4 linked regions of the Homo sapiens genome follow. The protein of the gene in region 2 interacts with the protein of the main gene of each other region in a pairwise test. Each region holds a gene or a part of one and is shown on either strand. Other genes may lie near its edges.

Evidence for each region.
Region 1: the proteins of HIP1 (region 2) and SHCBP1L interact in binary tests that used the Homo sapiens proteins (3 or more experiments, as listed by UniProt).
Region 3: the proteins of HIP1 (region 2) and CDKN2C interact in binary tests that used the Homo sapiens proteins (3 or more experiments, as listed by UniProt).
Region 4: the proteins of HIP1 (region 2) and SPRYD7 interact in binary tests that used the Homo sapiens proteins (3 or more experiments, as listed by UniProt).

Annotation. Positions count from the first base shown.
Region 1 is NC_000001.11:182,949,994-182,958,332, forward strand, and holds the start of SHCBP1L (testicular spindle-associated protein SHCBP1L), read right to left. Parts: upstream 3,174-8,339; 5' UTR 3,141-3,173; coding exon 2,736-3,140; intron 1,997-2,735; exon of another isoform or gene 1,992-1,996; coding exon of another isoform or gene 1,944-1,991; intron 1,475-1,943; coding exon 1,325-1,474; intron 1-1,324. UniProt on the Homo sapiens protein: Testis-specific spindle-associated factor that plays a role in spermatogenesis. In association with HSPA2, participates in the maintenance of spindle integrity during meiosis in male germ cells.
Region 2 is NC_000007.14:75,532,581-75,540,023, forward strand, and holds the end of HIP1 (huntingtin-interacting protein 1), read right to left. Parts: intron 6,852-7,443; coding exon 6,743-6,851; intron 5,645-6,742; coding exon 5,592-5,644; 3' UTR 718-5,591; downstream 1-717. UniProt on the Homo sapiens protein: Plays a role in clathrin-mediated endocytosis and trafficking. Involved in regulating AMPA receptor trafficking in the central nervous system in an NMDA-dependent manner. Regulates presynaptic nerve terminal activity.
Region 3 is NC_000001.11:50,965,597-50,973,481, forward strand, and holds the start of CDKN2C (cyclin-dependent kinase 4 inhibitor C), read left to right. Parts: upstream 1-4,648; 5' UTR 4,649-4,772; coding exon 4,773-4,901; intron 4,902-7,885. UniProt on the Homo sapiens protein: Interacts strongly with CDK6, weakly with CDK4. Inhibits cell growth and proliferation with a correlated dependence on endogenous retinoblastoma protein RB.
Region 4 is NC_000013.11:49,911,998-49,919,440, reverse strand, and holds the end of SPRYD7 (SPRY domain-containing protein 7), read left to right. Parts: intron 1-1,219; exon of another isoform or gene 1,220-1,348; intron 1,349-1,976; exon of another isoform or gene 1,977-4,280; coding exon 4,281-4,378; 3' UTR 4,379-6,739; downstream 6,740-7,443.

The sequences.
Region 1 (8,339 bases), on a different chromosome or scaffold from region 2:
GCTGGTCTCTAACTCCTGAGCTCAAGTGATTCACCTACCTTGGCCTCCCAAAGTGTTGGGACTACAGGCGTGAGCCACCACGCCCAGCCGCCATTCTTTATCTGTAAAACTGACACTGACTTTTCCACAGAACACATATTTTTAAATTGTTTTCAAGTAGTATATAATACAACAAGTTACATACATAAGTTTTTCTTGTATCCAAAAATACAGATTTAAACTAACTATCTGGGGTAAGGGTATCATTTGTGGTTATAAATATTAATTTCTATATAAGGATAATTGACCTTTAACAGAATCAAACATGCCACAATGTTTAGCCTACAGGCCTAACAAAGAAAAATCTTATTAGGGCCGGGTGCAGTGACTCATGCCTGTAATCCCAGCACTTTGGGAGGCTGAGTCAGGCAGATCACGAGGCCAGGAGTTCGAGACCAGTCTGGCCAACATGGTGAAACCCCTTCTCTGCTAAAGATCACAAGGTTAGGAGTTCAAGACCAGCCTGGCCAACAGGGTTAAACCCCGTCTCTACCAAAGATACAAAAAATTAGCTGGGCATGGTGGCATGCGCCTGTAATCCCAGCTACTCGGGAGGCTGGGGCAGGAGAATCGCTTGAACCGGGGAGGCAGAGGTTGCAGTAGCCGAGATCACACCACTGCACTCCAGCCTGGGCGACAGGACGAAACTCTGTTTCAAAAGAAAAAAAAAAGAAAAATCTTATCAGATAAAGGCTTGGAAGATATTATACTAGAAGGGTACTTTTTTTTTTTGAGACGGAGTCTCACTCTGTTGCCCAGGCTGGAGTGCAGTGGCATGATCTCAGCTCACTGCAAGCTCCGCCTCCTGGGTTCACACCATTCTCCTGCCTCAGCCTCCCTAAAAAGGGTACTTTTCAAAGGAAAAAAATTTCAAATTTTCCCAGTAGTTTTCTGATCCATTTCTTTTTTTTTCCTCATCTGAACTAAACTTCTTAATTCAGATAAATGAAGATTAAAGGGAAAAGACAGAAAAAGAAGGCCCAAGTTTGTTAAAGACTGAATCACTAATTTTATAAGAAATGCATTTTTGTTATTTTTACATTAGTTGAGCAAAAACTAGGCTAATAAATATTGTCTGATACTACTAGATTCCATTTAATGATAATGGTTTACAGGCACTAATATTCCCCTAACCTTCTTTTTACACTATTAATTTTCTCGGAAACTTAAAACAGAAGTAAAAATGTGTCAACTCTTGTGTATCAATCTCCAAATAATAAAGTCATATTTTAGTCTTTAAAAGAACTGATTCAAAAAGAACAAAGATCAAATAAAATTTATTTACCTCAACCAATATACCAACAAAAGGGATAGAAGCTTCTTCATATTTCACAAAGAATACACTGGGATTAGTCTTCCAGACTCCAAGCCATTTGTCTTTCAACTTTAATTTTTCTGATAGGTATTTACCCATAACTTCATCAGCATCTTCTGCCTAACAAGAGAAAAAATGGATCTACATATAAATATATGAAATTATAGATTTTAAACTAAGTGGTTTTTTTTTTTTTTACTGATTTCTATTTTAAAATGGAACCAATATAGCCTTAAATAATGAATGACCTGGAAAATTACAGATTTTAACTGAAACCGCATCTAGTGGAAAACATCACCAACAAAAAATTAAACTTAAAAGAGATCTATTCACTCGAATAATTCATAGATAAGACAGCTAGTTATTGTTTATGTCTTAATTTTCAACTTTTTATAAATATCACTGCAGTGAATATGCAGGTACACAAATTCTTCTGCTACAACTTAAAAAAATAGGTTAGAAACATGAAATATTTGCTCTATTCCGTTTTATCAGATATGTATTTTCTATAAAAGAAAGTCATGCCACCAGGCACGGTGGCTCATGCCTGTAATCCCAACACTTTGGGAGGCCGAAGCGGGCAGATTACCTGAGGTCGGGAGTTCGAGTCCAGCCTGACCAACTGGAGAAACCCCATCTGTACTAAAAAAAAATACAAAATTAGCCAGGCGTGGTGGCTCATGCCTGTAATCCCAGCTACTCGGGAGGCTGAGGCAGGAGAATTGCTTGCACCGGGAGGCGGAGGTTGTGTGAGCCGAGATTGCCCCACTGCATTCCGGCATGGGCAACAAGAATGAAACTCCGTCTCCAAAAAAAAAAAAAAAAAAAAAAAAAAAAAAAAAAAATATATATATATATATATATATATATATATATATATATATATATACACACACACACACACACACACACATTTATATATATATATACACACACATATATATCATGCCGCATTGTGGACTGCTGAGTGGGAAGTACCCTTAAAGTAATTTCTAGCATTCTAGTGTAAAAGTCAAGGCTAAGTGATCTTACTCATGTTTGGACATAAACTGTTAAATAAAGGTACCAAGATTCATGCCTGTGCAATGATAAGGCCAATATATCTTCATTTTTTAGGAGCTCTCAGAAAATTCTCTCTCAGGGCTGTCCCGTTACCTGACGAATTTTGTCGGAAACTCGAACCTTAACTCCTCTAGGGCAGGACGCGGGCACCTCTAACAAGGTGAACGCTCTATACATGTTGACTCCATTTACTTTTTTGAAACGCAAGTTTTCGTTGTGCCCTGTGGATCCCCATCCGCCTAAGAGGGAAGCCCCAGATGCCTGTCCCCAGGTTCCGACGAGCTTCCGACCGTAGTCTTCCTGTCCCGGATCCGCTCACCTTACAGTCCTGCAGCACTTCGTCGCAATACAGCGACACCTTCTCGTCCCGCCACATCCCCCTCATACGGGACACGCAGACTGGGGGCAGGGGCTGCGCCTCCTCTTCATCCTCAGGCACTGGCAGCAGGGGCTCCTCCGCCGCCGCCGCCGCCGCCTCTCCCGTGTCCTCGGCCTGAGCCGCGGGCAGGCGCTGGAGCCGCAGCCTGGCCGTCTCCCGGCCCGCTTTCCCCTTCACCGGGCGAGGGGAGGCCACCACCGACCGCACTGGGATCGCGGTGCCCTTCAGGGTGGTCGCGGCCGCCGTGTCCCCGGAGACAGCGGAGGCGGACTTCTCGCCTCGCCTGTCCGGGCTGATGGTGCGGAATGAGTCCGCGGGCACCGAGGCCTTGGAGCCCGACGCCATCTCCTCAGCAGCCCGAGGGCCGAGGCAGCCGTTGGCCACTTTTCCCGCCCTCGGCCGCTCTGGCCAATAGGCGCTCTGCGCTTCAGGCCCGCAACGAGCGGCTGCTCGAGGGCGTCCCGCCGGGTGGGGTGTTGCGGCTCTGGGAGGGATGTGAGGCGCGGCCCAGAGCTAGGGGGTGCGGGGCCTGCGGGTAGAGCGCGGGGTCCTGCGGACGCATTCAGGGTGCTGGGGGGCGCTGCTCAGAGCTAGGTGGGACAGGGCGAAGCGCCTGGGCTCAGGACAGGGGTGGGGGGGCCCGGGTCAGTGTTGGGTGCGGCTCCGTGCCGAACCCCCACCAGGTGCCGCACACACCAGAAGGTGCCAGACGAGCCCAACGCAATGGCTCTAACCCCAGCCCTCTGTCTCCCCCAGGGGAGGTTTCCTTAGGGTCCTCATACGTTTCAGGGTGATTATGAGTCACCTTCCAGGTCATCAGGACCTAAAAAAATGCTCCACCTACCACTCCACAAACAAAGCCTGAAAGAAAATTTATTTTCATACTGGGAGGTGACACTAACTGGAACCCTCTGGCTATTACTAGAGGAAACCCTAGTGACAAATCCAGCAACCTAGATTTCCCTTTTAGCCCCCACCTATTACAGGGTTCACCAAATAGGATTTCCTTTACATTTTAAATAGGACTTTCACTTTTTGCCAAGATGTGGTCATACCAAGGAGAAGTTAGTCTGTTTTCTTGTCTCTGTTGTGCTATTCAAAATTCTCACATAAAAGATTATATTATATAACTGTTAAACTGGACAACAACTTCCAGCTGGGAGTGATGTGTGCAAACTATGAACACTTTCACGATAAAAGTCTGTTCCAGATCATACATTTTGGAGAACAACAGAGACCACTCACTTCTGGTATTTTACTGTTGAATGTATATTGAGCCAATTGGAATTAACGTTTGTTCACAGTCTAGCTGTGAAATACTGCACTGAAGCTGACAGCTCCCAAGGAGAACAGCATTGGGAAAACACCTGCCTTCCTTCACACTCGTCTGGAAGAACACTATGTTAAATTCTGAGTTTATTTTGAGGAAAATATTAACATCATGTGGCTGGGCGCGGTGGCTCACGCCTGTAATCCCAGCGCTTTGGGAGGCCGAGGCGGGCGGATCACAAGGTCAGGAGATCGAGACCATCTTGGCTAACACGGTGAAACCCCGTCTCTACTAAAAATACAAAAAATTAGCCGGGCGCAGTGGCGGGCGCCTGTAGTCCCAGCTACTCGGGAGGCTGAGGCAGGAGAATGGCGTGAACCTGGGAGGCGGAGCTTGCAGTGAGCCGAGATTGCGCCACTGCAATCCGGCCTAGGCTAAAGAGCGGGACTCCGTCTCAAAAAAAAAAAAAAAAAAAAAATTAACATCATGTTACTGTAGTTTAGGGAATAATTACAACATGCATCATGTTTCAATTCTATTCTTACTTTATTCCTTTCGTTGAGTCCTGGACTTTGTTTATAACAATACTAACTGCATATTTCACTCACACACACACACACAAATGTTTTACTCTAGTGTTTCTTCAAAAGTTTGTTTTTGATAAATTATGGGTTTTTTAATTCTTAGGTTCTGAATAATAAAGACCACCTGTCCTGGGCCAAAGTTTAAAAACAGCAACAGCTCCCTTTTCCTCCAAAAGGCAAATACTTGTTAGAAATCTGTTACATGCCACACAATGCGTAGATGCCACAGTTATAGAGGTAAAAGACCAAATCCCTGCCCTCGTAATCCTAGTGAAAGATACAGATGGGTCAGTAGATGATTGTGTTTGGTAAGGACCATGCTTTTATTTATGTAAATACACATAAATACATACATATATATATTTATATACACACAAATAATTTGTATTTATTTATGTGTGTATATATATGCGTGTGTGTGTGTGTGTGTGTGTGTATATATATACACATATATTCCACATTGTAGGAGAAAAGGACCTTTCTTCTCCAAAGAAGGGATACTTAAGCTGAGTTTTTAAAACAACTTTTTTCTTTTTTTTTGCCTCCCAAAGAAATTTAGCTTGTTTCTCCCACCTCCTGTCTCCTCCAGGATGCTTTGACAAATGGAATACCACTGTCCCTTTTTCCTACAATGACTCCCTTCTCCCAACACAGAGCTCCCAATGCCCAGGCTCAAGATCGGCTTTCAGTTCCACCCATGGCCACTGCGTTTCTTGGTCATTCTTCAAGGGGTCTTTGTGTTCTCAACCTTCTGCCGCAATCCCAAGTGGAAGCTCTGTTGGCTCGCCCTCTAGTCCTCTTCCTGCTGAGCCAGTCTTCAACTAGGAATCACACCAGAGTCACCAGGACAAGGAAAGCTAGGCCCATCTGAAGGAGATTCTGGGCAGTGTGGTCTCAGAGGGCACAGTCTTTCTGGAGTCCCGTCTCTGGTTAAAAGGTAGGTGTCCCAAGAGCCAGAAGAGGTGGGGTCTGCTGGTGTTCTCAATGTCACCTATGATCAGGAGCTTTGCCAGTTCACTGGGGAAAGACCACACATGGTTGTTATAGGAGCCAAAACATCGGTATGTCCCTCTGTGGGTTGTGGTCACAGGACCAATGGGGAACTCCGCCTGGACATTCCCATATCTGCACTGTGTGCGGCTGGATCTTCCCTCCTGTTACCACCAGATCCAGAGTCACTGGGCTCCGACCAGAGCTCCCCAGCCAGATAGAAGCAGCTGTATAGCCCTGCTGTGCGGAAGGTCATGAGTAGGATGTGGAATTCAACTTTGTTAATCCATTCAGGGGGTTTTGGTCTCTCCATGGCAGAAAGGCTTCCTTCAAAGTACAGCTGGTATTCAACAGCCTCAGAATCTCCCCAGTGACAGATGGTCACCGGCTTTTCATTTGGATTCATGAACTGGGTTCAGCCCAGATGATGGGTTTTGGGAGAGTCTGCTGCTGAGCACTGATCCTCTGGCTCAGACACAGCCAGTGGCAGAGCAGGGCAGGGAGTGCAGAAGGCATCACTCAGATTCTGCCAGTCGAGTGCCAAGCAGTGGGGTGGGGACTGAGCCCAGCAGGCCAGGAGATGCACAGTATGTGGTAGGTGAGGCCCAGCGCCCATCACCACGGGGCAGCTTTCACCTTGACTTTTTTCACAAGAAGGTTCACAGCTCCTCTCCACCTCTGACCATGAGTCTACAGAAAGGCCATGGTCCCTATGACACATCTGACCACAGCTGTGGTCTAGCCAGCTCCTCTGATAATTGTCTGCTCAGCCTGAAATGCATTTCTGGGTCAACTTCTCAATTCTGCAATGTGGAAGTCATGCCCAGGGCATGAGTCAGTATTCAGACCCATGATACCCCCTGAGAATCATATAAAAATATAGGGAATTTCACAATGAGATACCATTACCATCTCACACCAGTCAGAATGGCTATTACTAAAAAGTCAGAAATTCACAGACGCTGGTGAGATTGTGGAGCAAAGAGGAAGGTTTACACACTGTTGGTGGGAGTGTAAATTAGTTCAGCCACTGTGGAAAGCAGTTTGGAGATTTTTCAAAGAACTACAAATAGAATTACCATTCAGCCCAGCAATCCCATTCCTGGGTATATATCCAAAGGAAAATAAATAATTCTACCAAAAAGACACATGCACTTGTATGTCCATTGGAGCACTTCACAATAGCAAAGATATGGAATCAACCCAGGTGCCCAACAGTAGTGGATTGGATTAAGAAAATGTAGTACATATACACCATGGAATACTATACAGCTGTGAAAAGGCACAAGATTTTTGCAGTAACATGGATGCAGGTGGAAGGCTTTATCCTAAGCAAATTAACACAGAAGCAGAAAACCATGTTCTCACTTATAAGTGGGAGCTAAACACTGGGTACATGTGAACACAAAGAAGGGAACAACAGTAACTGGGGACTCCAAAAAGGAGGAGAGAAGGAGGGGGGCAAGACTTGAAAAACTATGTATTTGGTACTATGCTCACTAGTTGGGTGACTGGATCATTAAAAGTGCAAGCCTCAGCATTACATAATATACTCATATAAGAAACCTGCACATGTATCCGCTGAATCTAAGAAAAGTAAGTAAAAATAGGGACTTTTTAACGGTGGATCTTCTGTGTACAGCATGCACATGCTTGGATAAGTTAATTGGTTTTATCAGAATGGAATGATAACACTATCTTCTTCAATGATTTGTTATAATATTTCAATAAAATAAAATAAAAGTGAAAAGAAAAGCTTCCCACTTAAAGACTTAATAAGGGCTGGGCACAGTGGCTCTCACCTGTCATCCCAACACTTTGGGAGGCCGAGGTGGGCTGATCACAAGGTCAGGAGTTCAAGACCAGCCTGGCCAATATGGTAAAACGCTGTCTCTACTAAAAATACAAAAATTAGCCAGGCGTGGTGGCGGGCACCTGTAGTCCCAGCTACTCAGGAGGCTAAGGCAGGAGAATCGCTTGAACCCAGGAGACAGAGGTTGCAGTGAGCCGAGATCACACCACTGTACTCCAGCCTGGGAGACAGAACGAGACTCTGTCTCAAAACAAACAAACAAACAAACAAAACAAAACAAAAAAAAAACCTAATAAGAAAAGAAACATTTCTAAGTAAGTAACTAACTCTCCACTTAATAAAAAAAAAAAGAAAAAACTCTCTACTGAAGTTGCGAAGATCTACGGTAAGAACAAATGTTCTATCTGTGAAATTGTGAAGGAGAAAAAAGTAATTGGTGCATATGTAGGGTATGGTACTATGCACGGTTTCCGGCATCCACTGGGGCCTTGGAATGTATCCTGGTGGATATGGGGGACTGCAAAGAAATGTGCTAATTCAAAACAGTCAGCAACATTGGAGAGTCTCCCTGCAGGTACAAGAGGATGGACTGAGTGAGAAGTAGATTTCCCATTTACTCTTGGGAGATGAATAACAATAGCAACGATTAGAGTGATAAAAGCCCAACAGCAGAAAGGGATTCCTCTCTCTCTCTCTTTTTTTTTCCAAGACAGAATCTTGCTGTGTCACCCAGGCTAGAGTACAGGGGCGCAATCTCGGCTCACTGCAACCTCCACCTCCCTGGTTCAAGCGATTCTCGTGCCTCAGCCTCCCGAGTAACTGGGACGATAGGCATGCACCACCATGTCTGGGTAATTATTGTATTTTTAGTAGATACAGGGTTTCAC
Region 2 (7,443 bases):
GCATCGGTCTCCCAAACTGCTGGGATTACAGGTGTGAGCCACAGTCCTTGGCCCACTTCGGGACTTTCTATTTGATCATTCCCATGGACAGGAGAGCGTACAGGGAGGATGGAACATGTTTAAGAAGTGCAAACAAATGTCTTTTTTTTTTTTTCAAGAGACAGGGTCTTGCTCTGTTGCCCAGGGTGGAGTGCAATGGCGTGATCACTGCAGCCTCAACCTCCTGGGCTGAACTGAGCCTCCTGACTCAGCCTCCCAAGTAGCTGGGACTACAGGCATATGCTACCATTCCCAGTTAATTTTGTTGTAGACGGGGTCTTGCTGTGTTGCCCAGGTTGCTCTCAAACTCCTGCACTCAAGTGATCCTCCCACTGCAGCCTCCCAAATTGCTGGGATTACAGGCATGAGCCACCATGCCCAATATCAAACTAATATTTCTTTTTTTTTTTTCCTTTTTGTGGAGAACAGCTTCTCACTATATTTTCCAGGCAGGTCTCTTAACTCCTGGGCTCAAGCTATCCTCCTGCCTCTGCCTCCCTAAGAGCTGGGATTACTGGTGTGAGCCACCACACCCGGCTCAAAACTAATATTTCTAAGATATATTCCCAGAGGTGTGGGGCTAAGTGGATTCCATGAACCCCAGGATACAAATGCAGGCTTCTCACTGGAGCCTATACCTCAGAGCCACGCTGGCTGGTCAATCACCACCACGCTCCATTGCCAGGCGGAAATATTTATTTGAAAAATTGAAAACACAGATGCAATGTATTATACAAAGAAAGGTCTTAATACCATAATAAAAGTATTGTTGGAGGGAAACAGAAGCCAGTGGCCACCTGCCCTGGGAAGGTAGGCACTCAGTGAAAAATGAAATTCATTTCAAGGAACTACCCTAATGGAAACCCAGGGGAAAGGTTAAAAACAGAAGAAAAACAAACCCAACCCTATCCCTGCAAACTGAAATGTGAAAGAGTCTGTTATAAGTTTGAGACAACTGCATTATCACCAAGATGTAACCGAACCCCCTCGGTTTGTCCCTATGAGTGGTAATCAGTTTCATTTAGGGCCTTCAAACCTGAGGTAGTTGAGGGTCACCTGAAAGACATGTCTGGAAAAATCTACTCTCAGAATCGAACCCAACAGCATTGAATTGTTTCCTGTTGCTTTGGCTCCTGACAACACCACGGTGTGGTGCTGATCTTGTATTTGGTCTGGACCTGGGAGAGGAAGGAATTTGGCAGCAAACAGCTGGCTGGTTTGCTGCGCCGATGGCTGGCAGGTCCGTGGTGGTGGTTTTCTATGCTACAGGTGGTGCAGTCTCTGGAGGACAAGGATGGCAGAGAGAGGGCAAAGCCAGTTTGCTTGGAAAGCCAATGTTGGAACTGGAGGCTTTCCCTGGCAGGATTTCCAGAGATTTGGAAAGGTGGTAGAAGGTAGCAAGATGCTGACCGGTTATTAAAGACCAGGGTCAAATGGAGCCAGGAGACCCCTCTAGACTAAGGAGCTAAGAGGGAACTTCCAGCTGCAAGCTGAGAACTAGCTCCTGCACAGGGTCGAGGGGCCAAAGCCAACTAATCTGACCGGAGCGACATGTACCTGTGATTCCCGTGTTACCTGGTGGCATAAACCTTGGTGTCTGACTTGGTAGCTGGGACAGTTCCAAGAAAAGTTGCTCTAGACAGTGGTTCTTCCAGCCACTGGGTTAGAGGGACCCGTATTCTGGTGGGATTTTAGGGGTACTGCTATGGACGGCTGCATCAGCAGACAATCTAAACTAGTCTCATTTAAACTCCTTGCTCAGATATAAAATAACCCTGCCAAGATGGCTCTTCTCTTCTATTTCTTTCTCTCTCTCTCTCTTTTTTTTTTTTGAGATGGAGTCTCACTCTGTGACCCAGGCTGGAGTGCAGTGGTGCGATCTTGGCTCACTACAACCTCTGTCCCCCGGGTTCAAGTGATTCTCCTGCCTCAGCCTCCCCAGTAGCTGGGATTATAGGCGCCTGCCACCATGCCCGGCTAATTTTTGTATTTTTAGTAGAGACGGGGTTTCACCATGTTGGCCAGGCTAGTCTTGAACTCCTGACCTCAGGTGATCCACCCGCCCCTGCCTCCCAAAGTGCTGGGATTAAACGTGTGAGACACCATGTCTGGCCTCTTTCTCTTATGTAAACAAACATCTTTTCTCTAGAGGTCTCAGGGCACTGTCTTACAAACTTAAGTAACAGATGCAGCTGTTTTTTAACTTCTTGTCGATCCTAAGCCATGATTTTGTTGCTGTCCCATCTTGTCATGACCCATTTACGCTCACCCGAGACTTGTCACTAGTGATGCTCAGTGACTCATTTAGAAGGCTTGCAGGTTCATTTTTAGCTTTAAGATGTGATTCCCGTTTTAATCCAAGGTGTGTCATTAAATAGCTCTTCATCTTCATTTTTAGAAGAGTCACAATAGGACAATTTGATTTTGTCTAGAGAATGGGGTAGCCATTCTAATCTGAGCTATTACGAAAGTAATTATGTGACATCTGACAGCTACTTCCTCATGTGACACTGAATTAGCCTCTGCTTCTGTTTAAGTGCTTTCTTAACCGTTATGACTCAGGCTAAGTCGATGAAGTTTTTAAACATTTCTGTGGCTTCTTTTTAGAGACAGGATCATTCAGATAATTTTTTGTTTGTTTTTAAAGAGATGGAGTCTCGCTCTGTCACTCAGGCTGGAGTGCAGTGGGAAATCATGGCTCATTGCAGCCTCAAACTCCTGGGCTGGGCTCTGACACAGAATCTTTTTTTTTTTGAGACAGGGTCTCACTCTGTCACCCAGGCCGGAGTGCACTGGCACAATCAGGGCTGACTGCAGCCTCGACTTCCCAAGCTCAAGCAATTCTCCCACCTTAGCTCCCCAACTAGCTGAGACTACAGGCATGCACCATCATGCCCGGCTAATTTTGTTTTTGAATTTTAGTAGAGATGAGGTCTTGCTATGATGCCCAGCCTGGTCTCAAACTCCTGAGCTCAAGCAATCATCCCGTCTTGGCCTCCCAAAGTTCTGGGATTACAGGCATGCGCCACTGTGCCCGGCTGGGCAGAGAATCTTAATTTGATCCATTACACTAGACTGTTTGCCCCATTTGTAATTTTTTTTTTTTTTTGAGACGGAGTTTTGCTCTTGTTGCCCAGGCTGGAGTACAATGGCGTGATCTCAGCTCACTGCAACCTCTGCCTCTGGGGTTCAGGTGATTCTCCTGTCTCAGCCTCCTGAGTAGCTGGGATTACGGGCACCCGTCACTACGCTCGGCTAATTTTTGGTATTTTTAGTAGAGATGGGGGTTTCACCATGTTGGACAGGCTGGTCTTGAACTCCTGACCTCAGGTGATCCTACCACCTCAGCCTCTCAAAGTGCTGGGATTACAGGCGTGAGCCACTGTGCCCGGCCACCCCTTGGTAATTGGGAACATATGAGTTAGAATGGCTGAGATCTAGAAGTGAGGACTAGCCACTTTTGGAAATGTTGACCCGCATCAAGAACACACCGATTGGTTTAGTTGCCACAACTGGGACAGGGAAGCCACGCACCATTCCTTCTGAGCCTTGAATCAAAAAAATACTAAGCAGAAAGCAGCATTCAACATTAAGACTGCCCAATTTCTAGTGCTGATACTTCCTTAGCCCAGTATGGAGGTCACACGTCTGAGTATGGTCATCCGAGGTCCTGGGAGAGAGTTTTTTGAATGTCCCACTTAGAAAATGCACAGAGAGGGAGTTGGGGAGGGGGGTGGGCTAGGGAGATGGGGGTTGGTTCACAGTGATCAAACAGAAGTCTCACAACCCGTCATGTAGCAAAACCTAGCAATATTCTGTTGGAGCAGATCCTGGGAAGTGCTTGATGGCTACCACCAATGAGTTGCTATAGATAAAGAAGGAAGACGCTGTTTTTCCAAGATCAGAAGGTCACTTAAATGCTGGGGTCCATCTAGAAGAGGAAAAGTGCTGTTGGGCTGCCCATCCCTGGCAAGCTGTTCATGTGCCCTCTGTCCTCATCCTGTCCACAGGGCAGCGAGAGCCTGGGGCATGTGGCTGAAAGGAGTTGGAGCCGCTGGCTCTGTCCTTTCTCATTTTCTCTGACCCAAGAGCTCCAAATGATCTCCTTGCTTTGGGATCCAAGTCAGTAACAGTCCAGCACCTTGGCCTTTCTTCTGATTCTTGAAGGCTGATGTAGCCGGGCAGAAAGATGAGCCTTGCTAGAGTCACACCTGAAGTTCTGATTGCTCCAAGCATCTCTTTGTAGGCTGTTGCTGCTTAAGGGAGGTTAGTAATAAATACTAAGGGTAGCAAACCAAGTATAGGGTTCTTCCCTGATGGGAGCAATTGCATCTGATCTTCCGGGTTTGTCAATTGCGTAGAAGGTGGAACGATCTTCCTATTCAAGAGGATGCCAAGGCAGACGTCTGCAGAAAGGAGTTGGGAATCACTCCCACACTCCGTCTCTGGGCCAAGGGAGACGGCCCGCTTGACAGAGACCATTCACGGACAGTTCATTCCGGCAGGGAAGTAGTGTTGTTGATCTCACCAGCTCCATTCAAGCATGTGATCAAGTTTTTGAGCCTCGTCACGGGAACTGGGCTGTGTGAACCCTCTTGTCCCTCTTTCTGTTGTCTTCTCCCTTGTAAAGGCGGACAGAGGCTTTCCGCCGGGATTCAGCTTTAGGAGGGAAAGGCACTCACTCTCCTTCTGCTTTTTGAGGAAAGCTGTCACTCAGCAGCTCCGCCTGACCCTGGAGCATGGACTGGGTGGGCCAGCACTTGGTCAGTGTGGAGGCGGAGATGGAGCACCGAGAGGCCTGGGCAGCACCATCGCTGGAGCTACCACAGTTGGGGGGCCCTGGAGACTCAGCCCCAGGGGTGTGCCCTTTGGGAGAGTTGGCTATGTGAGTGAAACTTAAAAAAAAAAACAAAACCAAAAAACCCAACCAACCACCATAAGAAGCAGTGGAAATCCATGGCACTGCCCAAAGAGGGGGAGAATGGCTTTGGCATTCACAGCCAGGACACTCCTGCCGTCCTTCTGACTGTGCAGATCTCAGGGTAGTGTCCTGGTTTGGAATCCATCAGCCCTCTGATGCTCACAAGTTTGTGCAAATGATGAAACTGAAAAGACTGAGAAGAAAACAGAAAAGAAAAGGCATAAGATCTTCCCTTTCCAAGCTGTCAACAAACAACAAGCAGCTCCTCTATTAAGGATACCCATTGTTGTGGGGGTCAAATAGTCAGCAGGACTGGATGTTGGTCCTCTCTGTTGAGTGGCCCTGCCCCCCACCACCCCTCTTCGTACCTAGGCTTGCTCATGGGCAGCACTGGCCAGCCTGGATGCTAACTAGGGAGGCGGGAAAAGAACAGAGATGACCATGGGTCCAAACAGAAAGGGTGTCGCTATGGAGGGAGTCTTTGGAAGTGTCATGCATGTCCTCGGCACTGGGTAATGGCAGTGGTGTGGCTGCCCCTGGGACTCCAAGGATTTGGCCTGTGGCTGGGGAAATAACACACACGAGATAGGTAACAAGGATTTACACTGACATATGGGGTGTTGGTTTGGCTCTATTCTTTTTCGGTTACCACTTCTTGCAGTGTAGGTGGAGATGCCTCTGTTCCTAAAAGACAATGATAATTTATGTTGCAAAGCACTCATGAATGCATTCATTCACTTAACCAACAAAACCTGCCACCATGGGGGCTCAAAAATACATTATAATTATAACCATGGTGTAATCACATAGTCCCCAAGTTTCGTGTCTAGGAATGACTAGGATCTGTCTATGGTTGGTGCCCAGAGTCAGTCAAGTCCACTAAGAGTGAACAGTCTTGGCTGTGATCAAGTTGACTGCTTTCGACATGCAGACAACAACATATAGACTCGAGGTGATGGATGGCAAGTCTCTGGGCTGGCAGCCTGAATGTGACTCCATGCCACTCCATTTCTCAGCACCTGATCCCTTCTTTTTTTTTTTTTTTTTTTTTTGAGATGGAGTCTCGCTCTGTTGCCCAGGCTGGAGTGCAGTGGCGCGATCTCGGCTCACTGCAAGCTCCGCCTCCCGGGTTCACGCCATTCTCCTGCCTCAGCCTCCTGAGTAGCTGGGACTACAGGCGCCCACCACCACGCCAGGCTAATTTTTTGTATTTTTAGTAGAGACGGGGTTTCACCGTGTTAGCCAGGATGGTCTCGATCTCCTGACCTCGTGATCCGCCCGCCTCGGCCTCCCAAAGTGCTGGGATTATAGGCGTGAGCCACCACGCCCGGCCTAGCACCTGATCCCTTCTGTCTTTTGGCAATTGTTGCCCTTCACTGGCTCTAGATAGACAGAACCTTGTAATTCACTTGTCCCTGTCTGCCAGATCTCGACTGACCACTATTTATTCATTTTTCAACTCTCTGCTGGCCAGAAACTAAATTCCCAGGGAGTTGGCAAGGCTAGCTGGGCCTGGGAGGGAATGGCAGTGAGTGAGTTATGATCAATGTTTAGGTCTTAAAAGGTGACAACAAAAGCTTTCAAATCACCATAACTTCACCCAAAGTTAGGCTTAAAGGTTATTTACAACGGAAGAGAAAACAGGTTCCATGAGGAGAGAAGAGAAGGAAGAAGCCACCGATCTGGTGGGTTCCTTGTTCTGTTCCATTCTAGGGGAAGGCCCTGGCCACACAGCTTCCCCTCCCTGCTGCGGGTTAGTGCCCATCCTTGGAGTCAGCTTACCTTCTTCCCAGCCCTCAGCAACACCAGCAAGCTCGTAGTGCTTTTTCCGAAGCTCTCCCAGTTTTTGACGCTCCTTCTGCAATTCATTTTCTAGCTCTAGCACCCTAACCTGTAAGGGAAATTAAGTGGGATTTTCTCTTAATCATCTCTCAGAGATTTAATTTTTATTTATTTTTTTATAGAGATGGGGTCTTGTTCTGCTGCCCAGGCTGGTAGTGAACTCCTGGCCTCAAGAGATCCTCCTGTCTTGGCCTCCCAAAGTGCTGAGATTACAGGCATGAAACACCATGCCCAGCCTACATCTATCTTATTTTGATTACTCCCTTTCTGCTGCATTGTGAATTCCTCTTCTTCCATATTATTCACCGTTTCCATACTTTATCTGGCCCTCAATTTCAATTCTCTTCTTTGCTCTAATTTTTCCATTCTCCCATTCATTTATCTATCCCAGTAGCTCTTATGCTTTACTCACTGTGATCTTCTACTGGAAGTGAATGATGCTTTACAAATGCCTAAATGGTAGGTGGGCTTATCTTCTGTTCCTCTGAGAAATCACTATCTAAAAACAACTCTAATGTTTAGCCTAACTGTATGGTGAGTACCAATCTAGTTGTAACCCTTCTTCAATCCCAGTTCCCTAGAAACCCAGGTAGGAAGCAAATATGATGGTTCTGATATCTTTCAGGTATTTGTGCAACTTA
Region 3 (7,885 bases), on a different chromosome or scaffold from region 2:
GACTCCAGAGGCTGAGGTAGGAGGGTCACTTGGACCTGGGAAGTCAAGGCTTCAGTGAGCCATGATCATGACCAAGCCACTGCACTCTAGCCTGGGCAACAGAGTGAGAACCTGTCTCAAAAATAAAATAAAATAAAAATAATAAAAAATTTTCATAAATAAGTACCTATATGAAAAAAACCACTGAATCTCAGAAATAAAATGCTGAAGCTACAATTATAAAGTCACATAAAAGGCTGCCTGGGGGTGCCCAGTCTGTTTTCCACCTCTGTTGATCTATAAATACAACAAAAAGGAAAACTTTGAGACCAGTTAAATAAATGGTAAATACCACATACACATTTCCAAAAGTTAATCATTCAGAAACTGTACCTACTTGAGTCAATGAGGGAAAAGCACAGAATAATTTGACTGAATCACATTTCTATTCTATGTCAATGAGGGAAAAGCACAGAATAATTTGACTGAATCACATTTCTATTCTATGTCTCTTTTTTTTTTTTTTTTTGAGACTGCTGGGCCGCCACTGCCTCCCAGGTTCAAGCAATCCTCCTGCCTCAGCCTCCTGAGCAGCTGGGATTACAGGCGCCAGCCACCACGCCCAGCTAATTTTTTTTTGTATTTTTAGTGGAGTTGGGGTTTAACCATGTTGGCCAGGCTGGTCTCGAACTCCTGACCTCAGGTGATCTGCCCACCTCAGCCTCCCAAAATGCTGGGATTATAGGCGTGAGCCACTGCGCCCGGCCACTTCTATGTCTCCTTAAATGATTATGAACTGCTGGAGCAAAAGGTTTCCATGACTGTTAATATTTAATATCTAACTATAAAGGCTATATTTCAGTATTTGATGTACTTATCATTTTGATGTTAAAAAGGAAAGCACCACTCTCAATATAGTAGAAACTTAACTATGAATTTTTCTTGTAAGCCATGTTAGAATATAAGCTTATTGAGGGTAGAGATACCCTTGAATCTGCTGTAGTGAACTAGCCCTCAATAAATACTAGATTTTCATTGGAGTTACTGTGTAATACTTATGTATGCCTTCTGAACTAAGACCCTAAGCTCTGCACTGCCAATTCTGGTTTACCCAACAGGCAGATGAAGCATATGCTTCAGGGCACCAGCAAAACCAGAATGTTAAAAAAAAAAAAAAAACCTTTGCCAAATAATTTAATATCTCAGCAAAACCACTGAAGTAGCCATCATGGGAAAAAAATCAGAACTTTGTTGGACTTTTTTACTGTTATTTTGGGGTTCTGTTATTTTTCTTTTTATTTCTATATAAGGAAGAGGTGGTAGAACATCAAAATCTTTTCAGTGCTTAGGGCCTCCAAAAATCTTAATACAACTCTGTGTACATCTTAAATTATCATAAGTTTTCCTTAGTTGTTCAGCAATAAGCATTTTATTTCATGAAAATTATAGTACGTTTACCCGTACTTTATGTAATCATACAATTTAAGATTCTTCCTCTTTACAATTTATCTCTAAGCAAGAAACCATAATAAATGCTAGAAGGCAATCCTCATAAATTGGACTAATACCAGTTCTCTTTTATCAGCCAACAGTGCTAATATGTCCTCACACCCTCTGGCTGTATGAAAAGATTACACAGTTCCCAGAATAATCAAAAGTAAATTATTATTTATTTCTTACTGGTATAAATGGAATCTTAAATGTTTCTATTTGAAACGTCTACATATATGTAAGAAAAAGAGAGTTAATTTCTTGTTTTGTAGTTCTCATTTGATTCACAATTCAAGTTTAGTTACCTAAGAAAAGAACTCTAGTTTTTTTCTCAACAATTACATTAAAGAAAACACTGCCAGATTCTTCCCAGTTTCAACTTTCCCTCTACCTACCAATCTCTTGCTGGATGATTACCCAGATATTTCTGGTGTGTTTTGTTGCTAATACTCCCAGTGTACTTCAAGAAGGGTACAGATACTGCTTGAGGATCCGCTTGCCAAAGGCCGGTTCTAATTAGACTTGTCATTTTTTGCTTGGTTTCATTTTGACCACTGGGTGCATCATGCAACCGTGTTGGATATTTTTAAGAGTATAAAAATACAGAAAGCAATAGTTAATTAATCTCACATAGCTAAAAGAGGAAGTTAAAAGTACTGGAAATTGGTGTCGGATGATTAAATAAAGGATTAGGAGAGAGACCATTCTAGACACCCTCCCCAACCCCACATCCCCAAAATCCAAGCCACTTCTAAGTAGTGAGAGAACTTCGGCAACCAAGAAATGGCTTTGTTAGAAAACACTTCACACGACTTATTTTAAATTTTGCTTTAAATTTAATTGCTTTTCTCCTTTTTCTCTAATAATAGGACTATTTCGCAGTTTCCAGTCCTTGATTAATTAAGGCTTCAGAGTTCGTTCTTACATATGCCATGTCTTAAGTTTTCATAAAATTCAGTCTACACAAGACTTGCTTTTTGTGAGCACTGTGCTTAGTGGCAGTCCGGATTTTTCCCTCCACCCCCGCGGCCACCCCTGCCCACCGCGCCGTCGGGCATGGATCTGGCAGGTGCGAGGCCGAGGCCAGGGCTCAGCGAAGGACGCCGAGTTTACAGAGCGCGCGCGCCTAGAGGAGGCAGCAGCAGCCGCAGCCTGGCCGCCCGAACTTTGCGAGCCTGGCGGGGGAGCACAGAGGCGGGCCGACCTGCCCCGCTAGCGCTGAGGAACGACTCCCTTTATGCCAGCTCGCTGTCCGCCTTCCCGCAGCGTACGCTGCGGAGCCTCAAAGACCCTGCGGCCCTCCACAACCGTCTTAAATAACAAACCCCTGTCCTCGCCCCCGTAGGAATTGGGGCAGCTGGGGGTTCGCGTCACAGACTCAAGCCCGCCAGCAGAAGGGCAGGCCGGACTTCGCGGGGCCGAACCCCGCTCCAGCTGGGGACAGGCCGCCTAGCCGGCAGGAGGGAGCCGGCGCGAGAGACTTGACGGGAGGAGGTGGAGAGCGGGAGGCGGGAATGAGGGCGCGGGACCGGGCGGGCGGAGCGTGCGAGACTGCGAGCGCGAGCGCCAGCAGGGCGGAGGGCGGGGCGTGGGCGGCGCCCGGCCTTCCCGCTCCCGCGGCGCTGCAACTCTGCCGAGCCTCCTTAAAACTCTGCCGTTAAAATGGGGGCGGGTTTTTCAACTCAAAAAGCGCTCAATTTTTTTCTTTTCAAAAAAAGCTGATGAGGTCGGAAAAAAGGGAGAAGAAACCGGCACCCTCTCTGAGAGGCAACAGAAGCAGCAATTGTTTCAGCGAAAAAAGCAGCAAGGGAGGGAGTGAAGGAAAAAAGCAAAAAAGGGGGCGACACGCAAGTGCCTGTAGGGGTGAAAGGAGCAGGGACCGGCGATCTAGGGGGGGATCAGCTACAAAAGAAACTGTCACTGGGAGCGGTGCGGCCAAGGAGGAAGCAGTGCTGCCAGGCTCTGCTCCAGGGCACAGCTGGCTGGCGGCTGCCCTGTCCGCAGCAAAGGGGCACAGGCCGGGGACCGCGAGAGGTGGCAAAGTGGCACCGGGCGCCGAGGCTGCTGAGCGCTCGCCGAGACGGCGACCGGACTGGCTGCCCCGGAACTGCGGCGACTCTCCCTACTCAGAACTTGGCCTACGTTTCCCAGGACTCTCCCCATCTCCAGAGGCCCCCACAAAACCGGGAAAGGAAGGAAAGGACAGCGGCGGCAGCAGCTCAATGAGTGCCTACAGCAGAAAGCCTGAACGAGCTCGGTCGTAGGCGGGAAGTTCCCGGGGGGGCTGCCCAGTGCAGCCGCAATGCTGCCGCGAGCTGCCCCAGCAGTCCGGGCTCCGTAGACGCTTTCCGCATCACTCTCCTTCCTCGGGCTGCCGGGAGTCCCGGGACCTGGCGGGGCCGGCATGACGGGCTTCTCGGGGGCCCGCCGCACGCCCGGCAGCCTCCGGAGACGCGCGCCGAGCCCGGCTCCCACGGCCTCTGAGGCTCGGCGGGGCTGCGGCTGCCTGGCGGGCGGGCTCCGGAGCTTTCCTGAGCGGCATTAGCCCACGGCTTGGCCCGGACGCGACCAAAGGCTCTTCTGGAGAAGCCCAGAGCACTGGGCAATCGTTACGACCTGTAACTTGAGGGCCACCGAACTGCTACTCCCGTTCGCCTTTGGCGATCATCTTTTAACCCTCCGGAGCACGTCAGCATCCAGCCACCGCGGCGCTCTCCCAGCAGCGGAGGACCCAGGACTATCCCTTCGGCGAGACGGATGGAAACCGAGCCCCCTGGAGGACCTGCCCCTGCAGTTCTGCCTCACACGGCTCAAGTCACCACCGTGAACAAGGGTGGGTGAATGCCTTTTCTTCCCCCTGAATGTCTTTCCTTCCGCGGTATTTTCTGCCCCGATCTATAGTCCCTTGAGTCTCCACACACACTCCTCACAGAGATCTGTAGCGTAGGTACGTGACAGCTCTGCCTACATCTGACGTCCGGAGTCATTAACCAGGAATGTATGTGTGTCTGTGTGTCTCTCTGTGGAGTCGTCAGAATTCTTCATAGGGGTTAAGCTAAAAAAGCGAGGCGAGGAGCCCCTCTCCAATGGCTCAGTTTTGCTGAATAATCACGTGTGAATCGAGGGGCGGGCTTTTGGCAGGCAGATCTTACTAGTATTTACTACCAAGCTCTACTCCAGATTAACCATCCCAGTCCTTCTGTCAGTCTCCGATGCCATCATGCAGCCTGGTTAGGAGCAAAGGAAAGGGGAAAAAGAAAAACGACTAATTCATCTTTTCCTGATCGTCAGGACCCTAAAGAATGGCCGAGCCTTGGGGGAACGAGTTGGCGTCCGCAGCTGCCAGGGGGGACCTAGAGCAACTTACTAGTTTGTTGCAAAATAATGTAAACGTCAATGCACAAAATGGATTTGGAAGGACTGCGCTGCAGGTTGGTATTAAGAGAGGTGGGGAAAACAAGTCAATAATGTTGCCTACGTGACCCGGGTTTCTAGATTTACAGCTTTTAAGCTTTCAGGGACATAAAATTTCACTGTTTTTAAACCTAGTTGGTTGCCATATTTTATATCTTTAAGTGGATGCAACTTCTCAAAATGACGTACTTTGAACAAACTCCTCAAATCCAATAACATCCTTGATATCAAGTGGGGTCCAGATTTGGTCTTAGTTTTTGGAATGTTTTTGTGACGGTGGGGATTTTAAAGTAGTCAGTGTAGGGCCGAGGTTTGTTTGTTTTGTTTTGTTTTTAAAGACAGCTCTGTAAACACATTATTATGATTATTATTTGAAGTAAATACACTGCTATTAGTGGTTTTACGTACTTTGCCCCCAATAATAGACTTTAACGTTAATTTTCTTGACTACTGATGAGGGTGTTTTTCCTTCAAATGCTTCAAGTTTTGACAAACGACCTTTCCTCGTTTGGAATGGGTGGCCTGGGCACCGGGACAGGATGTACATTTTACAGTTAATGTAATACCATCCACTCATTCAGGAGTCGGGAGGAATAAAAAGTTGAATTTTCTAATCAGAGCTCAGCTGCAGTGTCTTTGTCTCTACGGTCATGCCGTGGTGTGCTCTAATTTTCAGTAATTAGATTTACAGGCAACAATTGACACATGTCCAGCTGCCAAGTATTGTACCTGATAATTTTTTTCCTCTTCTGAATGTTATCATGTAACTTAGGTGAAAGGCTTAGAAACAGAAAAATGACAAAATAGTTTAAAATAGTTGCTTTATCAGAGTTCTGATGATATTCTTATGAGCTATTCTTATTTGGAAATGCAACACTTGAAGCTGTTTTTGAAAACCCAGTGGGGAGAGGGTTTTTAGAGGGCTTTGTTTCGGTTACAAGAATTAAAAATTTAAGTGCCAAGAGATATACTATTAACAAACAAAGTCCATACAGTCTGTACATTTTCAGTCAGAATACACTGGCCTTGCAAAAATTTCAGTATTAAGGAAGTTTATGCACAGATACTAAATTATTTATCTTGTTATTGCTGCTACATTAAGTAATGATTTTTTTTCCTTTTTCTACCTAGTAGTTTTGAACAGGTTTAGTGATGATAGCAAAGTAACAAATTTAATATATTGAAAAGTTTCCTTTTGAAAACTCAAAAGATTATATAAACTTCACAAAGAATGAACTACTTAACCCATGTTCATGATAAGATTTTACAGGATTTTTGACGAACAGGAAGACTGGGAAATTAATAATATTCTTTTAAAAAGTTTTGACAAACATTTTTAATACAACTTTGCAATCTTGTTTATATTAAACATACTTATCAAGATACTAACACCCACTTATTGTGGCTTAGTCCTTGTACATATAACGAAACACACACACAGAAACTGGAGTTTCAAGGCTTATTTTCAATATGTATAATCCTGACTCTGAAGTTGTGTCATAAGTCAAGAAATAACTTTCTTCAAAACCGTTTCCAATATTGCTATTATTTTCTGTGAAAAAAGGTGAATTTTCTTCTACAATTATGTTTATTTAACTCAATTTCAAAAGCCTTTTCCACCTTCCTAGTGTACATTTTTCTATCAGGTTAATATCAAAGGCCTTAATCGTATGTTTGCTTTACGAAGATCCAAGGTATCTGTCTCTTATTTTTCTCATTCCAGGTCCTTAAATATGACTAAATCTTTAGGGACAGTTGTGGTCGTATCAATTTTTAATAACCAAAAAGTATGTTTCATTGAAGTTCTTGAAATATAAATTATGTATCACTGTTTACCACTGCTCCAAAGGAAGAGCTAAAAATCAACAGTTTTATCAACAGGGGAGCTTAATATCTTGTCCATCTATGTAGTTTGCATTTACAAAATATTACTCATTTTAAATATATTTTGTTATTTAATGTGTGATTAGATTTTTTTAAACAAACATTTAAAAAAGATAGAACGACTTTGTATTTTCCATTAGCATTTAATTTCATAAACATTGAGTGTCTATTATACAAGATATTTATTATAAATTTAGATTATTATGGATATACCTAGATATAAATAAACCAGTGTAAATTCTGAAAATGTGTGGCATGTTAATGAAAGTAATATTTTTTCACAACTAAATTATATGTATTTTATATTTGCATGCTGTTCTACAAGATACTTTATAAGAGACCACTGTTAGAGTGAAATATATTCAAACAATAGTAGATAATCTTTGTTATGTGAATTATTTGTATGTTGATAGCAAGTGTTAATACCACATTCTGACTTTTAAAATGTTGGCAGTTTACAAATAGCTGTTCCTTAAATGCTTGATAATAACTGAAAAAGGAACTAACACAGGATCACCAGTTGATTATTAAATGAGCTCAAACCACAAGACAAGGCTGTCCGTGTCCCAAAACACCCATTAAATATCTTATTTTTTCTTCTTTTGCTCATTTGAAAATCAGGAGGCTTGTCAGAACTTTGAGAAACAGTATATAATGTAATAGGGTGACTATTTCATTATTTTCAAGAACAGTTGTCCTACAATAATTTCCTACTGTGATACAAGGCATATCAGGAACTTAGTTTTATATAAATTGATATCATAAGCAATTTAGAACACTGTGGCTTATTTAACACCTTAATAATCAGTACTGTTTTGTAACTTAAAATGAAGGATTCTAAACATTGAATACACCTAGTAGCCAATATTAAATAACTTGCAAATAAAAAATATTTTTAAGAAATGCTTGGAAATTTGGAGCTATATCTATTTGGAGGGAACTTGTAAAAATTGATCATTTAAGAAAATATCAGGCCTGGATTTTTAAAACATCATTTTTACACTCACTCATGGAGTTGGTTTAGAGAAACTCAACATCCTTATTTGTTTGCAGTAGCTATTTAGAAAATAAAGTTTAACCACATATGATTTTCTAGAATTAATACCACAGGCACATT
Region 4 (7,443 bases), on a different chromosome or scaffold from region 2:
TCCCGAGTAGATGGGACTACAAGCACGCACCACCACACCCAGCTAATTTTTGTATTTTTAGTAGAGATGGGGTTTCACCATGTTGGCCAGGATGGTCTTGATCTCTTGACCTTCTGTTCTGCCCGCCTCGGCCTTCCAAAGTGCTGGGATTATAGGTGTGAGCACCTGGCCAACTTTTATATTTTTACTAGAGATGGGGTTTCACCATGTTGGCCAGGCTGATCTCGAACTCCTGAGCTCAAGTGATCTGCCCACCTCGGCCTCCCAAAGTGCTGAGATTATAGGCATGAGCCACCGTGTCCAGCCTATTTTGTATTATCAACTTTAAGTAAACAGGTATATGATTTTTCTGCCTTTGGTTTTGTAAGTCTAAAAATATTTTCTCATTTAAGTTCTTAAATTTGGGTTATAATAAGAACTAATTAGGACTGGCGTGGTGGCTCACACCTATAATCCCAACACTTTGGGAGGCCGAAGCCGGTGGATCACTTGATGTCAGGAGTTTGAGACCAGCCTGGCCAACATGGTGAAACCCCATCTCTACTAAAAATACAAAAAATTAGCCAGACGTGGTAGCGCACTCCTGTAATCCCAGTTACATGGGAGGCTGAGACAGGAAAATCACTTGAACCCAGGAGATGGAGGTTGCAGTGAGCCGAGATCATGCCATTGCACTCCAGCCTGGGCGACAGAGCAAGACTTAGTCTCCACAAAAAAAAATAAAATAAAATAAAATTAAAAAAGAAAGAAAAATAACTAATTAGGCCAGGCACGGTGGCTCATGCCTGTAATCCCAGCAGTTTGGGAGGCCAAGACAGGTGGGTCACTTGAGGTCTGGAGTTCAAGACTAGCCTGGCCAACATGGTGAAACCGTGTGTGGTGGCACACACCTGTAATCGCAACTACTCAGGAGGGTGAGGCGGAGAATCACTTGAACCCAGGAGGCAGAGGTTGCAGTGAGCCGAGATCACACCACTGTGCTCCAGCCTGGGTGACAGAGCAAGACTCCATCTCAAAAAAAAGAAAAAAAAAAAAAAGAACTAATTTAATTACATTTGTTGTAGTTTACTATAAAAGCAGCACTGGTGCAATGACTCATGCCTGTAATCCCAGCACTTTGGGAGGCTGAGGTAAGAGTTGCTCGAGTCCAGGAGTTGAAGACCAGCCTTGAGCAACATAGTGAGAACACGTCTCGACAAAAAATTTTAAAATTATCCAGGTGTGGTTGTACGTGCCTGTAGTCCCAGCTACTTGAGAGGCTGAGCTGAGAGGATCTCTTGAGCCGGGGAGGTCAAGTCTCCTGTGAGCAGTGATCATCGTGCCGCTGCACTCCAGCCTTGGCACCAGAGTAAGACCCTGTCTCAAAAGCAAAATAAAATTAAAATACTAAAATAAAAATAGCAGTATCAATGATGACAAACTGGGATGTCAGAATTATACAATAACAAATATAAATAATAATATGATAATAGCCAAAGCTTGTGATTACCTTTTAGTTTAAGGTTTTCATTAGCCTTCTTTTCTCCTAAAATTACTTTTCAGTCATTTTACCTTCTGTGTCCTTGCATGTAAATGTGTGTTTTAAAACTCAATTTAGTGTTGCATATTGGGTAAGCCTAAAAGCAATTCCTTTATTTACTTGAGTAAATGGAAATTTAGCTTGATATTTGAAATAGGTTAGCCTGAGAAATAAAATAAATATCAGTAGAGTGACAGTTATACAAGTTAACTGTAGCAAATAAGTTTAATGCTCTAAACTGTTTCTTTTATTCAGCATTATTTGTAATGTACTAAGGTTATAGATACTAAATTATATTTCATAAATTGAACTCATAAATCAGTCCAATTAAACCAAGTGTTTTAATAGCCTGATCCTATCAAAGATAAACATAAAACTTAAATCCCTTTACTCTTTTGTCTTCCATCCCTAATCCTTGATCAATCCAATCATTCATTTTGTCTCTTCTTACACTCAGCCTGTAGAAAGAAAAAGACTGCATAACACTGAAGAAGTGTGGTTACAAAGTTACGACTTCCTGGCTGGGCGCAGTAGCTCACGCCTGTAATCCCAGCACTTTGGGAGGCTGAGGCAGGCGGATCACGAGGTCAGGAGATTGAGACCATCCTGGCTAACAGGGTGAAACCCCGTCTCTACTAAAAATACAAAAAATTAGCTGGGTGTGGTGGCGGGTGCCTGTGGTCCCAGCTACTTGGGAGGCTGAGGCAAGAGAATAGCGTGAACCGGGGAGGCGGAGCTTGCAGTGAGCCGAGATCATGCCACTGCACTCCAGCCTGGGTGACAGAGCGAGACTCTGTCTCAAAAAAGAAAACAACAAAACAAAACAAAAAAAAACAAAGTTATGACTTCTAGCCTAATCTGAGCTCTCAATAATTTTCAGCAATTCTTTGTGCATGTCTATGCATTCTGTGCTTCTTGCATTCTCTATTCATCCTCTGAAAATGCCTTGCCTTCTACCTTACAAAAAAAACAGGCAATCACAAGTGAACTCCAGCTTCCCTCTCTTCAGGTCCAATCCTGCCTTCTTTCCATCTCATCCCAGAAGTGGTACTCTGCATGTTGCAAACACTCTATCTGTAGTCTGGATTCCAAACTCCCCAAATCTGGAACGTCACTTTGTCAGTTATTTCATCGATATCTCATGTCATGGGCCTCCCTCTTCAGTGCTTATAAACATTCTAAGCCCCATCCCAAACGCCCTTCTTTGGGCATGCATCCCTCACTAGTCCTGTGTTTCCCCTTCCCTGGATGGCCACATTTCTTCTAGAATAACCTATATCTGCCATCTTTATTGTTTTTCTTTCTTTTTTTTTTTTAACATTTAGGTTCGGGGGTACATGTGAAGGTTTGTTACACAGGTAAACTGGTGTCACGGTGGGGGGTTTGTTGTATAGATTACTTGACTAGCTCAAGGGTAGAGCATTTGACACCTTTATTGTTATTGTTCGTTTGTTCTGCAACCCAATTCAGCTGCCATTACACCACTAATTGAAACCACCCTTGTTAAAATCACTGGTGACTTCATGAATGTCAAATCCAGTATTTACATTTTTTTCTGCATTTATGCTGAAATATAAAGTATATAGTAATGTGCATTAAACTTATATGTGCAATTTAACAAATAGCTATCAAGTGAACACTCACATTATTACCACTTAGATCAAGAAATAGAACATTTTCTTGGCCCAGATGCAGCCCGCACCACAGCTGCATTCCTCACCCAGGGGGAGTAATCACTATTGGGTGGCAGTGCTGATTATTTACTTGCTTTGCTTTACGGTCATGTTTTGTTTTGTCATCACCAGGGTCAAGGTAATGAACATATTCACCACCCCAAAGGTTTCCTTCTGCCTCTTATATCCTACTCACCACTCCCTACCCCAGCCCCAACCAAACAACCACTGATCTGCTTTCTGTCACTACAGATTAGCCCATATTTTCTAGAGTATTATATTAACAAAATCATATGGTCTTTTCTTTTGGTCTGGCTTCTTTCACTCAGCACAATTATTTGAAGATTCATTTATGCTGTAGCATATATCAATAATTCATCAGTTTTTATTGCTGAGAAGTGTAGCATTGTGTGGATATATCACAATTTCTTTATCCTTCACCAGTTGATGGACATTAGGGTTGTTTCCAGTGTGGGACTATTACAAATAAAGCTATTGTGAACGTTTGAAAATATGTCTTTGGATATACACATTCATTTCTCTTGAGTAAATACCGGTAAAAACATTTAGAAGCTGAGTAAGGCCTGCAGTCTAGTTCACAGTAGTGTACCAATGTCAGTTTCCTGGTTTGGATGTTGAGCTGTAGTCATGTAAGATGTTACCACTGGGGCAAAGTGTACAAAGGGTGCACTGGACTCTTAACATTTTTGCAACTTCCTGTGAATCTATACTTTTTCAAAGTTAAACATTTTTTTAAAAAGTAATATGTCTTAATTATATAAAATTGAGAAAATGCAGATAAGCAAATAAGAAAAAAATTACCCATATTCACATCCTCTTGAGAGAATTACTAATAATATTTTTATATATATCCTTCCAATGTTTTTGACAGATAGATTTTGATTTTTGTTGTGGCTGTTTTTACCCATAGGATTATGTTTTGTAACAGGGACAGCAGATATATTTATTCTTCTTACCTATTAATATTGTAGTATTATGGAGACAGTTTATTTTATTTTATAATTATGTATTCATTGAAATTAAAGTATTTGCTTCTAATTTATTTTCTTTCTTTTTGTATCCTTTAGTTGATGACAGTGCAATTTTGGATTGCCAGTTCAGTGAGTTTTATCATACGCCTCCACCTGGTTTTGAAAAAATATTATTTGAACAGCAAATCTTCTGAATGTATTTGTTTTTAAAACTTGTATTTCTGCACTGTTAAAAAATGTTCATCATTTAATAAAACTTTACCTGGCCTATAGATGAAAATATATTCTTAAAAATATGCTTGTTGATGCTGTCTAAGGAACCAATGTATTCAGTATACCACCCTGAAGTTGTGATTTAAAATACTTTATGTTTTGTGAAATGAAAATAAGCATTTGGGCAGTTTATTTAATTCTTATTTAAATAAATAGAATTATGGGTTTAATTAACAGTATAACATGACTATATATACATATATATTTAAAGGGAATTCTTTCTTACATAATATATTTGTTTTGATAGAGATGTAGAGTTGGGTGGGTGTTTTTGTCACTCTGAAGTTTAGACCTCATTAAATATTTGACATCTACAGTTGGATAATTTTGCCGCTTAGTGTCCTTTTTTATATACAATATAACAAAGTGAGAGAAATTTATATTACTGGCAATTTCATTTTTGGCAGTCTATTTCTGTATCATGTACCGCTTTTCTTAAAACTTAAATTGCTTATTTTGTTGTGTAATGTCATTGCTTTTGATTTGCTTTGTGAAAGGAGATAAACGTTTCAGTAATTGTCAGAGCATTTTGTTGCCTCAGGCTGTGTTACCTCAATTTCAGAGTAAGTAGTGGTTGATTAGTAATGTAGTATACACTGGCAGACATCTAGAATAGTATGATGCTTTACATTTAAATGAGGTTATTCTTTTAAGGACTTTTATTTGTATGTTTTCTGTAAGGAATAATAAAATAATTGTAATTAAGGAATATACCATACTATATTAAACACATTCTTCCTATTTTGTTAGTTATACACTAAATTCACATCACCCGTGATTATTTCAGTTCAGAGATAAGTGAATCCTCTTCATGACCCTGAGTCTTTGCCTGGTTCTTAAGAATCACTGTCCTTTAGTTAACGCCCTGTGACCTGAACCAATCACTCTATACATCTTTAGATACGTTGTCTGTTTTCAAATGAGCATGGCAAGGATGCATACATTTCCCTCCTTTATCAACTAGAAACAGTACATTGTTCAGGAAAACATGAGTGTTAGAATTAGAAAGAGATCCAAATTGTAGTTTTGCTGCTCATCCTATTTTCTCCTCTCCAAGTCTCAGATTCCCATTTATAAAAGGAGCAATCATACTGACATAAGATTCTATGATTAAATAAGGTAATACATATATAACACCTTAATAATCATAGGCACTTGCGCCAGGCGCGGTGGCTCACACCTGTAATCCCAGCACTTTGGGAGGCTGAGGCGGGAGGATCACAAGGTCAGGAGATCGAGACCATCGTGGCTAACATGGTGAAACCCTGGCTCTACTAAAAAAATACAAAAAAAATTAGCCAGGTGTGGTGGCGGGCGCCTGTAGTTCTAGCTACTCTGGAGGCTGAGGCAGGAGAATGGCTTGAACCCGGGAGACGGCGCTTGCAGTGAGCCGAGATTGCCCCACTGCACTCCAGCCTAGGCAACAGAGTGAGACTCTGTCTCAAAAAAAATTAAAATAAAATAAAATAAAAATCATAGGCACTTAGTAAGTGTAGTTTCCTGGATGGTAAAGTATCAGGGAAAGTGGTTTTCTTTCTTTTTTTTTTTTTCTCGTTTTTTTTTTGAGACAGAGTCTCACCTTGTCACCCAGGCTAGAGTGCAGTGGCACGATCTTGGCTCACTGCAACCTCTGCTTCCCAGGTTTAAGCGATTCTCTTGCCTCAGCCTCCCGAGTAGGTGGGACTACAGGTGCCCGCCACCACGCCCGTGTAATTTTTGTATTTTTAGTAGAGATGGGGTTTCACCATGTTGTCCAGGCTGGTCTCAAACTCCTGACCTCATGATCCACCTCCCTCAGCCTCCCAAAGTGCTGGAATTATAGGCGTAAGCCACCACACCCAGCCAGAAAGTGGTTCTCATGATGCTTCTCAGACCGGCAACATCAGCATCACTGGAACTTGTTAAAAATGGACACTCTCAGAACCCACACCAGACCCACCAAATCAGTTTGAGAACTGCCATTCAGTAGAGAATTATTTGCCTACTGTAAATTTTCTAAGGATTTATGATGGGCTATTTTTGACCCATAGGCTCAGAGAATCCTGCAAAATCCTTTTTTATTGTTTATTCTGCAGACAAAAATGTGACAATATGCTTTGAAAACATAGATATACTTGAGTAACATTTATTTACATAAATCCCAAATTCTACCTCTGAAGGTATATGAAATTTAACTATGTATGTATTATGCATTTTGTCTGGCTTTCTATCATAATTTTAATTTGTAAAGAATGTGCTTACTTGGGAAAGCAAATTAAAGTGACTACTGTTTGCTATCGTTATGATGTTATCTACCTCTTTTTAAAATTCTTTTAAAATTTAATTTAATTTTATTTTATTTTGAGACAGTCTCGCTCTATCACCAGGCTGGAGTGTAATGGCACAATCTCAGCTCACTGCAACCTCCACCTCCCGGGTTCAAGCAATTCTTCTGCCTCAGCCTCCCAAGTAGCTGGGACTACAGGCGCACGCCAACACGCCTGGCTAATTTTCACACTTTTAGTAGAGACGGGGTTTCACCATGTTGGCCAGAATGGTCTCGATCTCTTGACTTCGTGATCCGCCAGCCTCGGCCCCCCAGAGTGCTGGGATTACAAGCATGAGCCACTGTGCCCGGCCTCTACCTCTCATTTTTTTTTAAGCCAACCTTTTGAAAAATCATATTCTTTTCTGCCTCTAATTATACAACAGAGACATAGTACTAAAAATGATACTGAAGTTTATGTCCATGACAACAGTTTGGTGAAATCTAGGTGTGTTTTTATCTCCATACATATCAAATTTATCTTAAGAAAATTACATTGAGCTGGCCGTCCTTCCACAACCCATAACCTTAGTCTAATCATGAGAAATCAGACAAATTCAGAGGGGCATCCTATGAAACACTTAATGATGCTACTCAAAACTTTCAGGGTCACCAAAACATGGAAAGTCAGGGAAACTGCCACACCCAGGAGGAGCTTAAGAGGACATGACAAGTGTAATG